4 separate regions of the Homo sapiens genome follow, and regions 2, 3 and 4 are each reported to be linked to region 1. The links are microRNA targets in miRTarBase. Many come from high-throughput screens and were not tested one by one. Region 1 holds a microRNA gene; each other region holds the end of a gene's coding sequence.

Evidence for each region. The annotated mature microRNA hsa-miR-4465 reads CUCAAGUAGUCUGACCAGGGGA and lies in region 1 at 2,342-2,363, shown strand. An mRNA with a match to its seed (bases 2 to 7 or 8) in the 3' UTR can be bound and repressed. Matches are read on the target gene's strand: a 7mer-m8 pairs with bases 2 to 8, a 7mer-A1 pairs with bases 2 to 7 and ends in A, and an 8mer does both.
Region 2: the mRNA of DCP1A is a reported target of hsa-miR-4465. Seed matches in the 3' UTR shown: 7mer-A1 at 587-593.
Region 3: the mRNA of RHOQ is a reported target of hsa-miR-4465. Seed matches in the 3' UTR shown: 7mer-A1 at 2,314-2,320, 7mer-m8 at 1,861-1,867 and 8mer at 774-781.
Region 4: the mRNA of GLTP is a reported target of hsa-miR-4465. Seed matches in the 3' UTR shown: 7mer-m8 at 1,925-1,931.

What each region holds. Positions count from the first base shown.
Region 1 is chr6:140,681,514-140,684,785 of GRCh38, forward strand. MIR4465 (microRNA 4465) reads left to right here and starts at 2,301; the gene lies at 2,301-2,370. All of the region lies in intron 4 of LOC105378027 (a long non-coding RNA gene), which reads left to right.
Region 2 is chr3:53,284,914-53,287,913 of GRCh38, forward strand. It overlaps DCP1A (decapping mRNA 1A), which reads right to left. Exons shown (of 10, transcript NM_018403.7): 10 at 1-2,747. The coding sequence ends at 2,667. The region is part of intron 1 of LOC107986087 (a long non-coding RNA gene); the gene reads left to right. Among named protein-coding and RNA genes, the nearest start is that of TKT, 30 kb to the left of the region's middle.
Region 3 is chr2:46,580,506-46,583,505 of GRCh38, reverse strand. RHOQ (ras homolog family member Q) reads right to left here. Exons shown (of 5, transcript NM_012249.4): 5 at 1-2,578. The coding sequence ends at 2,423. PIGF (phosphatidylinositol glycan anchor biosynthesis class F) reads left to right here. Exons shown (of 6, transcript NM_002643.4): 6 at 1,915-2,569. The coding sequence ends at 2,028. Among named protein-coding and RNA genes, the nearest start is that of RHOQ-AS1, 1.8 kb to the right of the region's middle.
Region 4 is chr12:109,849,907-109,853,178 of GRCh38, forward strand. GLTP (glycolipid transfer protein) reads right to left here. Exons shown (of 5, transcript NM_016433.4): 5 at 1,039-2,831. The coding sequence ends at 2,649. Among named protein-coding and RNA genes, the nearest start is that of TRPV4, 18 kb to the left of the region's middle.

The DNA.
Region 1 (3,272 bases):
CTGTAGAGATATATATTCTCTATATCTCTCTATATCTGTAGAGATATATATTCTCTATATATCTCTCTATATCTGTAGAGATATATATTCTCTATATATCTCTCTATATCTGTAGAGATATATGTTCTCTATATATCTCTCTATATCTGTAGAGATATATGTTCTCTATATATCTCTCTATATCTGTAGAGATATATGTTCTCTATATATCTCTCTATATCTGTAGAGATATATGTTCTCTATATATCTCTCTATATCTGTAGAGATATATGTTCTCTACATATCTCTATATCTATAGAGATATATGTTCTCTACATATCTCTATATCTATAGAGATATATGTTCTCTACATAACTCTATATCTATAGAGATATATGTTCTCTACATATCTCTATATCTATAGAGATATATGTTCTCTACATATCTCTATATCTATAGAGATATATGTTCTCTACATATCTCTATATCTATAGAGATATATGTTCTCTACATATCTCTATATCTATAGAGATATATGTTCTCTACATATCTCTATAGATATAGAGATATATGTTCTCTACATATCTCTATAGATATAGAGATATATGTTCTCTACATATCTCTATAGATATAGAGATATATGTTCTCTACATATCTCTATAGATATAGAGATATATGTTCTCTACATATCTCTATAGATATAGAGATATATGTTCTCTACATATCTCTATAGATATAGAGATATATGTTCTCTACATATCTCTATAGATATAGAGATATATGTTCTCTACATATCTCTATAGATATAGAGATATATGTTCTCTACATATCTCTATAGATATAGAGCTATATGTTCTCTACATATCTCTATAGATATAGAGCTATATGTTCTCTACATATCTCTATAGATATAGAGCTATATGTTCTCTACATATCTCTATAGATATAGAGCTATATGTTCTCTACATATCTCTATAGATATAGAGCTATATGTTCTCTACATATCTCTATAGATATAGAGCTATATGTTCTCTACATATCTCTATAGATATAGAGCTATATGTTCTCTACATATCTCTATCGATATAGAGCTATATGTTCTCTACATATCTCTATCGATATAGAGCTATATGTTCTCTACATATCTCTATCGATATAGAGCTATATGTTCTCTACATATCTCTATCGATATAGAGCTATATGTTCTCTACATATCTCTATCGATATAGAGCTATATGTTCTCTACATATCTCTATCGATATAGAGCTATATGTTCTCTACATATCTCTATCGATATAGAGCTATATGTTCTCTACATATCTCTATCGATATAGAGATATATGTTCTCTACATATCTCTATCGATATAGAGATATATGTTCTCTACATATCTCTATCGATATAGAGATATATGTTCTCTACATATCTCTATCGATATAGAGATATATGTTCTCTACATATCTCTATCGATATAGAGATATATGTTCTCTACATATCTCTATCGATATAGAGATATATGTTCTCTACATATCTCTATCGATATAGAGATATATGTTCTCTACATATCTCTATCGATATAGAGATATATGTTCTCTACATATCTCTATCGATATAGAGATATATGTTCTCTACATATCTCTATCGATATAGAGATATATGTTCTCTACATATCTCTATCGATATAGAGATATATGTTCTCTACATATCTCTATCGATATAGAGATATATGTTCTCTACATATCTCTATAGATATAGAGATATATGTTCTCTATATATCTCTATAGATATATGTTATCTATATAAATATATATTCTCTCTATATATAATTACATACACACATATATATGTATGTAATATTAGACAAAATCTCTAATAGCAAGACAAACATGCAACCCTTCCGACATTTTATTGTTATTAGATATAGTGTCTAATATTACACATATGGCACAAGCCTAGAAGAAAGCAATAGTAATAGATCATTTATCTGTGTTAATTAAAGAGGTAAAATCGTTATCTAGCAAAATATGTTGAATTTAACAAACTGCATCCAGAAAAAATTCTCTAGTTTTACCATTTCTAGAAGAGGATGCAATTTTTGTTCTTTTAAGTTTTGTTCTATGTGTGTGGGGTTGGGAAGGGAATGGGGGTGAAGGCGTGGCTGAGAGAATAAAAGCCTTGAGAAAAGAGGGCTTGCCTTGCTCCTTATGCTGGAGAGATGTCCAGGAGGTACCACGGTTGGTAGTGCTGCCTACAAAGGATGTTACAGTTGAATTTGTCAAGTTCGTTTCTTAGACAGCCCTGCTCTGGTCTAGCCCAAGCTCTCATGTGTCCCCTGGCACGCTATTTGAGGTTTACTATGGAACCTCAAGTAGTCTGACCAGGGGACACATGAGAGCTTTTCATTGATTGCATTCCCACAAGCATATTTCCGTCACAAGTGGGGCATGTATCTCTTGTTTGGTTTGTTTTTAGTTTCAATAGCATATAACTTGCTTATTTCGCTTCTATGGATACTACCTGTGCCACTAAATAGGTCCCCTTAAACCTCTTGCAAAAAAGAAGGAAGTATTATTTACTCTACTTTTCTCTTTTAACCCTGAAATGAACATACACATTGTTAAAAATATTTATGGCATTTTATTGCTACTAATTATGAAAAAAAAAAGAAACAGCAGGAAACACAAAAGAGCAAATGTCGGTCTACATTTAAAGCAACCATAATGAGGACTCTCCCAGTGTTTTTTCAACTTCCTTAATCTATGGACCATTTTCAGCTAAAAAATAATTAATGATAAGTACACTTTAATTCTAAGTATCAATTTTTATAATATCAGCTAAAAACATACCAACAAAACTTATATATGTTTTGATATAATTGTATAAAATAAAATTTTTATGTAAAATAAGATATAAACTTATTTTACTTATAGCTCTGAAATCTATTAAATTTCATTTTCAAATAAAATACTAAAGCTTCCTACCAAATCACTAAAATTCAAATTAACAACATTAATTTAATATGCCATAGATTATAATTTTTATAAAAAAATACAATTACCAATGAAATTAAAACTATGAAGCAATACTTTCTCACTTTTGTCATTCTTATTTTGACCCTTATTTAAATTATAGTAGTTATCGTTGCCTTTATTTTTGCCTTTAAAAAACTCAAAATTTTAACTATCAGGGAATTATTTTGAAGATCCAATCAATTCAATCATATTCATAAAAGGCAAAAAAATTTTGGAGTATGAAGTCCTTTATTATATATTTAGTATCATCATTACTTGTTCA
Region 2 (3,000 bases), not on the chromosome of region 1:
ACCTCATGAATCCCAGGAGGTACACAATGAAGAAGAGCTTCTGCCTTAAAGGAACAAGGCTGTCTGGGAGGCCTGAGAGTCCATTAAAAGACACCGCATTAACTACAACAAAAAGAAGAGCAGCACCACCCACCAGTGGTGCCCCAGACACACCTCTCCTCCAAGCTCTGGGCTGCTCCTCTTGGAGTCTACACTTAGACCCTGGGGGTGGGGGTGGGCACACAAATGGACAGAGTGGTCTAAATGCAGGTCTCCTGGGGTTCTGCGAAATCTAGCCAGAAGCATCTCCATCTCGGTGTCCATTTCGATCCAACTAAGCTTCCAGTAAAGACACTGCAGCAATGTAAACATGCAACCTAAGCTAGCATGAGGTTCTAGATAGTAAGCCTGAACTAGGAATAAGGCAACTGAACTGTGACTTTCGGGCCAGGGTCATCCAGCTGCAATTATCCAGGCTTGGCCTGGCTTCTCTAGGGATTCATTCTGGCCTGAACTTCCTGGTAATCATGACATGAACTTCTGGCTTCTGAATTTTAAGTAAATACTTTGAATATATAAATTTGGGAGGTGAAACAGGTTTACCCTTTTCAAGTCTCCATGACTTGGGCACTTAAGTTTACTTTCACACTAAGGAAGCCTTATCATAGATGCTCTTTACTGTCTATCATATCCATTCCTAGCATTAAAGGTGAAAATTAGTATGATCACAGACTCTCTTTAGGATATTCTCTCTTAACTCTCTCATAATATTACATACTCAAAAGCATAATTTCGATTCAAGAATCCCTTGATTCGTCTGTTCACCGAAGCCCACTGAGACTACACTTGAGGTGCAATCACACCTACTGGTGCGTCCACTTTATGGAAGTCACGTGGCTCCCTGGACACCATCTCCCGGTGTCAGCAACACTCTGTATCCCACTATAGCTTTCTCGTTCCCAGATGATGCATAAGGAATTCATTTTTGGTTGCTTAATTTACATACTATCTGTGAAAACAAACTATTCACAATTGAGCATGAAAACTTATAAGCTTCCCTGAATTCTGCACAATTCACACATAATTAGGTAGACAGCAATAGAAGACACTAAAATGAGAAGCAGAAACCCTGTCCAGGAAGCATGTTTAGATCAACAAAAGCCAATCATTCTTTATGCTAAAAACTAAGACCAAACTAAAACAAGTATGTAATTCACAAGTAATTTTCTAAAATTTTAGCTAGAAAAAAATAATCTATGGACTTATGATTGAGTTACCATTAAAGCTTAAATGATTGTTCCTAAGGAACCATCATATCTGTCAGCATTATTCACAGCTAATCCTTATGCTAGCTGGTTGAGCCAATTGGGTTTTTACCCCATCATTAAATAGTGCTCAGAAAAGTAAGCAGTGCATCTTAATTGGTTAAATACTACAAAATGACCTGTATCATAGAAACGAAGACACTTTCATTCAAAGAATATCTTAAAATTACTATTGCTGAAATAAATCAAAATCTACATTAAAATATTACTAAACACCATTACATGCCATAAAAGAATAAATAGAAATCATGGCAGATCAATAGCAGCATAACAAAGCTTCTTTACATATTTTCACACTTTGGGCCGGGAAAGTACTCACAGCCTAGGAATACATTGGTAGAGTTCGGAATCACATTTTCTTTTAACTCCATAATTCTACAACAAAATAAGGGCAGTGTGAATAACAGCTCCCTTTTCTGCATAGCTTTAAAACTATTCTCAGTACACTCAAGGAAAGGAACCAGAATGGCTTTGTCAGATTGGTCCACTGGTCCTTTTGTCAAAGTGTTAAGGAAAACAATCAACAATGACAGAAAAGGAAAATAAGGCTGTGCTTCACACACAAACTTAGCATTTTCAGAACCAATGGAGAGTTTAACCTAAAATGAAGATTTGATAGGATGTGGGCATTCCCAGCCCCAGCCTTTCCTTCAAAGGTATGACATGCCTGTGTCCACACCACCAGAGCCTGACAGTGCCCTATTCAAATGGTAATGCTGCACTGGGGGCCTGCTGCAGGGCAGGACTGGGGCACTTAAAAACAAAATGCTATTAAGAAATTTCACAACTTTTAAGGCCCAAATGGGGCATTCATATAAAATATACTTCACTTGAGGAAATAATTCCTAATTTGCCGGCTTAAATTCTGGTCCTAAAAACTAGAAGCTACTTTGCAGAGCTGCCTTCTACTCTGTTCAAAACTTGACTTGTCAGCCCAAAGCCCGTTTCTATGGGGTAGGCTGGGGGAAGCGGTGGGGGCCGGGCTGAACTTCTGCTGTGAGGCTGGTGACTACTCCTCTGTAAGTCCTTGAAAGTGAAAGCAAGCTGAGAATCTGACTCCTTATTCCACAGCCTTGCTCCTAGCTGATGAAAACACCCACATAACTTAACACAATGATCGCTCTCTTTTTTTTTTTTTTTTTTTTTTTTTTTGTCAAAACAAGGATCTGCTGGTGATGCTTCACAGTGAAACCTCCATTATCACTGAGAATGTCACTTGGAAAACATTCTTAAGAAATGAGTCTCTTTCTCATAGGCTCAATTTCAGGATTCTCAAACTCAATGTTCTGCTCAGAAGTTTCCATGATGAAGCCTATTTGTCTCTGAGGCTGGGGCTCTGCCTTTAGACTTATTCTGCTCCAGTCATAGGTTGTGGTTGTCTTTGTTCTTGGTCAGAACCTGCAAGTAGACTTCATGAAGTGTACTGAGGAAGCTGGAATCATTCTAGAAGAGATGGTAAAGGTTAAGGATACGAATGCCACATTTACCTCATCAGATTTTACTTCCTTGGTAACAGCTTAGGAAAAAAATTGTATAAATGATTTGTATAACTGATAATCCCACCACCCAGAGACAATCATGATTAATATTTTGAGTTCATGCAGATATTTCTCCACCAGGACTGTATGCTTAAAAAAAGAGAAACAGTACTCCCAGCTAGTCTGTTTTTGTTTTTTTTTTGCCTGCCTTGGCCTCC
Region 3 (3,000 bases), not on the chromosome of region 1:
TAAGGCACCTCAGCTTCAGATGTGACAGTCATCTTTGCTTAGAGTTCTGATAATCTATATACATGATTTTTACCATCTTGAGAATGTGAAGCTGAAAAGGTAACATCCAACAATGATTACTGTGAATAAGAAAATTACTGTGATAAATGGGAGAGACGTTGGAGATCTCTGTTCTACCTCCCATATTTATAATGAGGAAACCAAATCCCAGTCAAGAAACAGGTGACACCAGTTTGTGTAGACAAATTCCTAATCTGTTTCTGTTAGGGCAGGGCAAATTCTAGACTTCTAACTTTGAATTAGTAAACCAAGTGTGAAGGGTTTCAGAGATATGAATTGGAGCCCCCTCCCCCCACCAAAAAAAATCCTCATAAATCCCCAAAGGCAAGTTGGAAATGTGTAATAGTTTACTGTTGTAATTCGTTTATACCATGTGTTGGACAACTCAGCTAATATGTTAATTGATTTATACAATTCCTTTCAATTTTATCTAAAAATAAGCAGACCAAAATTAAATAAGAAAGTTACATAAGATTCCATTTGAGCATACATAAGGCCATGATACTTTAATGTGAACCACCATTTCTTGGAAGAAAGAAGACATCCAAATGTCCGATTCAGAGAGAAAGTTCCTGGCCAGTCATCCAGTAGACTCTCTCCACTCTTCAATGGGAAGGTGATGCTTATATTTTTAAAAATCTCTACAAAGCTCACATACAACAAGACAGTACATCCTAGATTTGTGACTGATATGAGCATTTAAGGCTGTCATTTTCAAGTATAAAAGTTTAGTGTTCCATTACCCAATCTGTGCAGTAGACATAGCTATAAGCTCAAGTCATGTGAATTAACAGAAGCCCACCAAAGACATTTAAAAAATTATAATTTGGGCAACAGCAAGTTTAAATGTAGGAAAGGCTAGAAAAAATGTGATGAGATTGTTTCTCTAAAATGCATTAGGTTGTTCACAATGAAGCTTTGTCTAACACCATTATCTGATGCATCCATTATCTGATGCATGGCATATGCAATAAGGCAGATCCACAGCAGACCAAACAAGGAAGCTGAATTAGGTAATAGAACTAGTAATTAAGATGGTTCACCTCTAACACAGTTCTGTGGCCTGTTCCCCCCAGAGAAAGATTAGAAATGGCTCCAGTGTACCAAATAAGCTTCACAGAAGAACATGAAAATTTTCCTCCAACTTTTTTTTCTTTTTTTTTTCAAGCAGAGCCTTTCACTTAGGGACCAACTGCTTGTAGATGAAATAAATCAACATTAATTACTTCTAGCCTGATGTAATATGGCTGGAGAAAAGGGGTCTCTGGAAGCCGGTATTTTGTTTAACTTACATTCTAGGTGTGTATATAAGTTGTCGCTCTATAACTTCTGCTGTGGTTCCAACATCTATATCTGAAAGGTGGAAGCAGCTGCTCTGTTACAATTTTCATGTAACACGCTTGGATTCTAGGTCTTTCCTCTTTAACACAACTTAAAGAAAGTTTCTTGTGGTTTGGTCAGCATACACACTTCTCATTTCATTTGATGTACACAGCCAAAGTGGGAATTAAAAAAAAAAAATTACCAACTAGTTCAGAGAGCTAAATTGAGTCTATCATTATGGCAAAGTCTGACCCAAAATTTTAATTTGTAATTTTAGCATGTGTCTCATGCACTTTGGGGAGCGTCAAACTAAATCTACAATTGCCAGAAGCCTTGTTACAGTTTAATGCACATTAACTAAAATGTGTACATTTTTAGTGTTCATGATAAATGCAGTTATGACCTTATTACACTTTTGGCATTCTTTAAGAAAGCACATTAAGCTTTAATATAGAAATATTTAGGTTACACTTGTGCTCAAGTAATAATAAAACATTTGTTCTTTTTTGATCTCATACATTCTCTCCTCAGGTATGGCCCATCTCCTGTACGCTTGGAGCGACCTTTGGCTACGTGGCTGGCCTTGTTATTTCACCACTCTGGATATACTGGAATAGAAAGCAACTTACATACAAGAACAATTAACTGGAGCAAAGGGAGATATTTCTTTGTGCAGATTCTGTAAGGGCTGGGCAGAAATGTGTATGGTCAAAGCCAAGCAGTTCCATTTACAGCTCTGTTTTTTACGTAGTTACAACATGATGTGATTGTAGCTTTTTAAACTATGAAACCCCTGAGAGATTGTACCTTCTAGTTGAAATAAAGTATTTATAATAGATTGTGGCTTCAGATGCTGCTTACTGCTTCTTAAACCTTTAAGGAACATTCTTAATACACTTTATAGAATTCTGAGGACAGGTTTTGTTTTCTTTCAAGTTTTGAACTGCTTCATTACCTATAAAAGGTCTGGGTATAGCTGTAGCATTTCATTTGCTTTCTGAGAGAAATGGACAGTTTCCTTGGCCACTGAAGATGTTTCTCACGTAATTAAACAACAGTTTATACATCTTGATCCTATTCTTTTTTTTACAGTGTGTTTCTTTGGAGTTAAAATGGCTATGATAGCCTCATCAAAAACAGTCTTCAATCCCTTCTGGGTTAAAGCTGAACATTCCACATAGCAGCATGCTCCTATCTGGGAGGGAGAAAAAAAATCACAAATATATAAGATCATGTTTATACAATTGGCATGACATAAACACATCATTATAAAGAAAATTATAAAATACAGCTATGCAAAAAGAATACATTCATCATCCATGTTCATAACCCCAGAGGGGATTTTAAAATACTAGTATATGTCCTTCCAGACTTTCTATGAAAAATTATTTCACTCACCACATATTTACTGGGTATCTACTATATGTCAAGCACTGTTTAGGTCCTGGGGATATGTCAGTGAACTGAACGAAAGAGCAGAGTCCCTGCTGTGTGGCGTCCACATGTGCTGACATCTGCTGGGTAAGAGGCACAGGGGAGGGAATACAGAGCAGATGGTTGCAAATGCTGTGGGGAAAAAGCAGAGTGAGGGAGGCGGGGAGTGCTGAGGACAATGGT
Region 4 (3,272 bases), not on the chromosome of region 1:
GCAGCCTGGTTTTTCAAAAGAAGCTAGAAACCCAAGGTTCTTTTCTTAATTATACGTTACATAGGTATACACGTGCCATGGTAGTTTGCTGCACCTATCAACCCGTCATCTAGGTTTTAAGCCCTGTATGCATTAGGTATTTGTCCTAATGCTCTCCTTCCCCTTACCCACCACCCCTGACAGGCCCCAGTGTGTGTTGTTCCCCTTCCTGTGTCCATGTGTTCTCGTTGTTCAACTCCCACTTATGAGTGACAACATGCAGTGTTTGGTTTTCTGTTCCTGTGTTAGTTTGCTGAGAATGATGGCTTCCAGCTTTATCCATGTCCCTGCAAAGGACATGAACTCATTCTTTTTTATGGCTACAGAAACCCAAGATTTTTTTTTTTTTTTTTTTTTTTTTTTTTTTTTTTTGAGATGGAGTCTCGCTCTTATCAGCCAGGCTGGAGTGCAATGGTGCGATCTTGGCTCACTGCAAGCTCTGCCTCCTGGTTCCAAGCAATTCTCCTGCCTCAGCCTCTGAAGTAGCTGGGTTTACAGGCACCCGCCACCACACCTGGCTAATTTTTGTATTTTTAGTAGAGATGGGGTTTTACCATGTTGGCCAGGCTGGTCTCGAACTCCTGACATCAAGTGATCCACCCACCTCGGCCTCCCAAAATGCTGGGATTACAGAAGTGAGCCACTGCACCCTGCCGAAACCCAAGATTCTTATGTGAAATTCCCGTTTCTCCATGCAGCAACCAGTTCTGTTTTTTAAGACCACGGAGGCCAGGCCTGGTGCAGTGGCTCATGCCTGTAATCCCAACCCTTTGGGAGGCTGAGGCAAGAGGATTGCTTGAGGCCAGGAGATTGAGACCAGCCTGGGCAACATAGCAAGACCCCAATCTCTACAAAAACATTTAAAAATAATAGATAAATAAAATTTTAAAACCATGGACGCCAGAAAATACATTCTTGGTAGGATTTGTAAGGGTCCCCAGTTGTAATTTCTGATGCAGGAAAGAAAAAAAAATCAAGAACCAATACAGTGCACAGATGTGATTCCAAAATAGAGATTTATTTATTAAGGATTATTTAGTTTCTGCATAAAAATCTCCAATTGTTCCTCATTGGGTTTTTTCTTTTAAAACACACATCAACTCTTTTGGGGTTGCTTTGTTTGCCCCAGCACTTTAAAAAATACAGCTCTTTTTAGCGCCAGGAAGAACAGTTAAGGTTAAGGCAGTGAGGCGTTTTCTTGGATCTTAGCAGCTGAAGGGTTCATCTCTCCCCGTCAAGAGAATACACACGGTAGGTAGTTTCTTAGGTTGGAAAATCTGTCCCTGAAGGAAATAATTCTGCAGAAGAATGCAAACGGAGTCATCTATGGTCAATTGTTTGTGCCCTATAGCTTTGAAAGAAACGCCTCTTGGTCATCAAGGGCTTGCTGGTTGGTTTCAGCTGTAAAACAACAACAACAACAACAAAAAACAACCAGAAAAAAGAAAACAAACAAAAAAATCTGTCTAGCGAGACAGAAAGAGCAGGGTTTACAATAGTGCTGTGAGGCTGGGCTGTGCAAACCACATGAGAATACACACCAGTTTGCTTTTTAAAAAATCCCACATAGGGGCCCTGCATAATTTTAAATCAAACTCTTTATAGTCCTTAAAATAACAATACAGCGAGAGCCTCATAAGGTCACGTGCTTTTTTTTCTTTTTTTTCTTTTTTGAGACAGAGTTTCGCTTTTGTTGCCCAGGCTGGAATGCAGTGGCGCGATCTCGGCTACTGTAACCTCCACCTCCCAGTTTCTAGCGATTCTCCTGCCTCAGCCTCCCAAGAAGATGGGATTACAGGCGTGCGCTACCATGCCTGGCTAATTCTATATTTTTAGTAGAGATAGGGTTTCACCATGTTGGTCAGGCTGATCTCAAACCCTGACCTCAAGTAATCCACCCACCTCTTTTTTTTTTTTTTGAGACAGAGTTTCGCTCTTGTTGCCCAGGCTGGAGTGCAATGGTGCGATCTCAGCTCACTGCAACCTCCACCTCCCGGGTTCAAGCGATTCTCCTGCCTCAGCCTCCTGAGTAGCTGGAACTACAGGCGTGCGCCACCATGCCCAGCTAATTTTTTATATTTTTAGTAGCGATGGGGTTTCACCATGTTGGCCAGGCTGGTCTCAAACTCCCGACCTCAGGTGATCCACCCGCCTCAGCCTCCCAAAGTGCTGGGATTACAGGCGTGAGCCACGGTGCCCAGCCATCATGTGCTTATTTTTAAAGCGAGGTGGATGACACCATTCCCCCAGAGCTGTGTTCCTCGTTGGCAACAAAACAAAACCAAAAAACCCTAGGACTTGACTCATTAGAAGTGTTAATCGGTTTTTACCACGCTGAAATGAAGGTATAAAGTCAGTCTGTGCTGTCGTGAAATTCCAAGGAGATTTGGAAGTAAGATCATTATTTACTGGTCCTTTAGAATAGACCAAAAAAAAAAAAAAAAAAGACTTAAAAAACGAGGGCTGTCCCCTGCAGACTCTGGCAGGACCCTGGGCTGCTCTGGGGGACACAGGCCAGGGGCAGTTCACCGACTTGATTCACAGTGATTCTGGTTTGCCTGTTTCTCCATGTGGCCACGAGTCGGGGACGTGTCCAGCAGTGGGCATGCCTACACCTTGTAGTTAAGCTCAGCGTTCATCTGGGTGTACATCTCGTAGATGACATCGATGGTCGCCGTGTAGTTGACTAGGAAGAGGCGGATCTTCTCCAGGCACTCCTCCTCCGTAACATTCTGCCCCTTGGAGAGCGCTTTCAGGAAGTCAGACTTATAGGGTGCTGCGTACAGTGCTGCCTTGAGACAGGCAAGAAGGGAGGTAGGCACAGCGTTAGCGGGGGCTGAGGAGCCAGGCCAGCAGGCCAGGGTTCTGGGAGGGGTCTTCCCTGGGTCTGTGCTGGACAGGGGGTTGTGCTATTTGAGGTGTTGGAAGGGAAAGGAAAAGGGAGGTGTATTTTGAGCGACAGCAGGAAGGACATCAGCTTTCGGGACAGACAAGCCTAGATGCAAATGCCAGTCTGGGCCATCAACTAGCTGTGAGCCTTGAGCAAGTCAGTTAGCCTCTCTGAGCTTCAGCTTCCTCATCTGCAAAATGGGGATAATGGCTGCCACCTAATCGGGTTGCTTTTATAAGGATTAGGGGGCTTGTACAAAGTGCTCAGCACAGCACCAGGCATACAGTAGGCACTCAGCACAACACCAGGCACACAGTAGGTGTTCAGCATGGGTGAGTCTCTT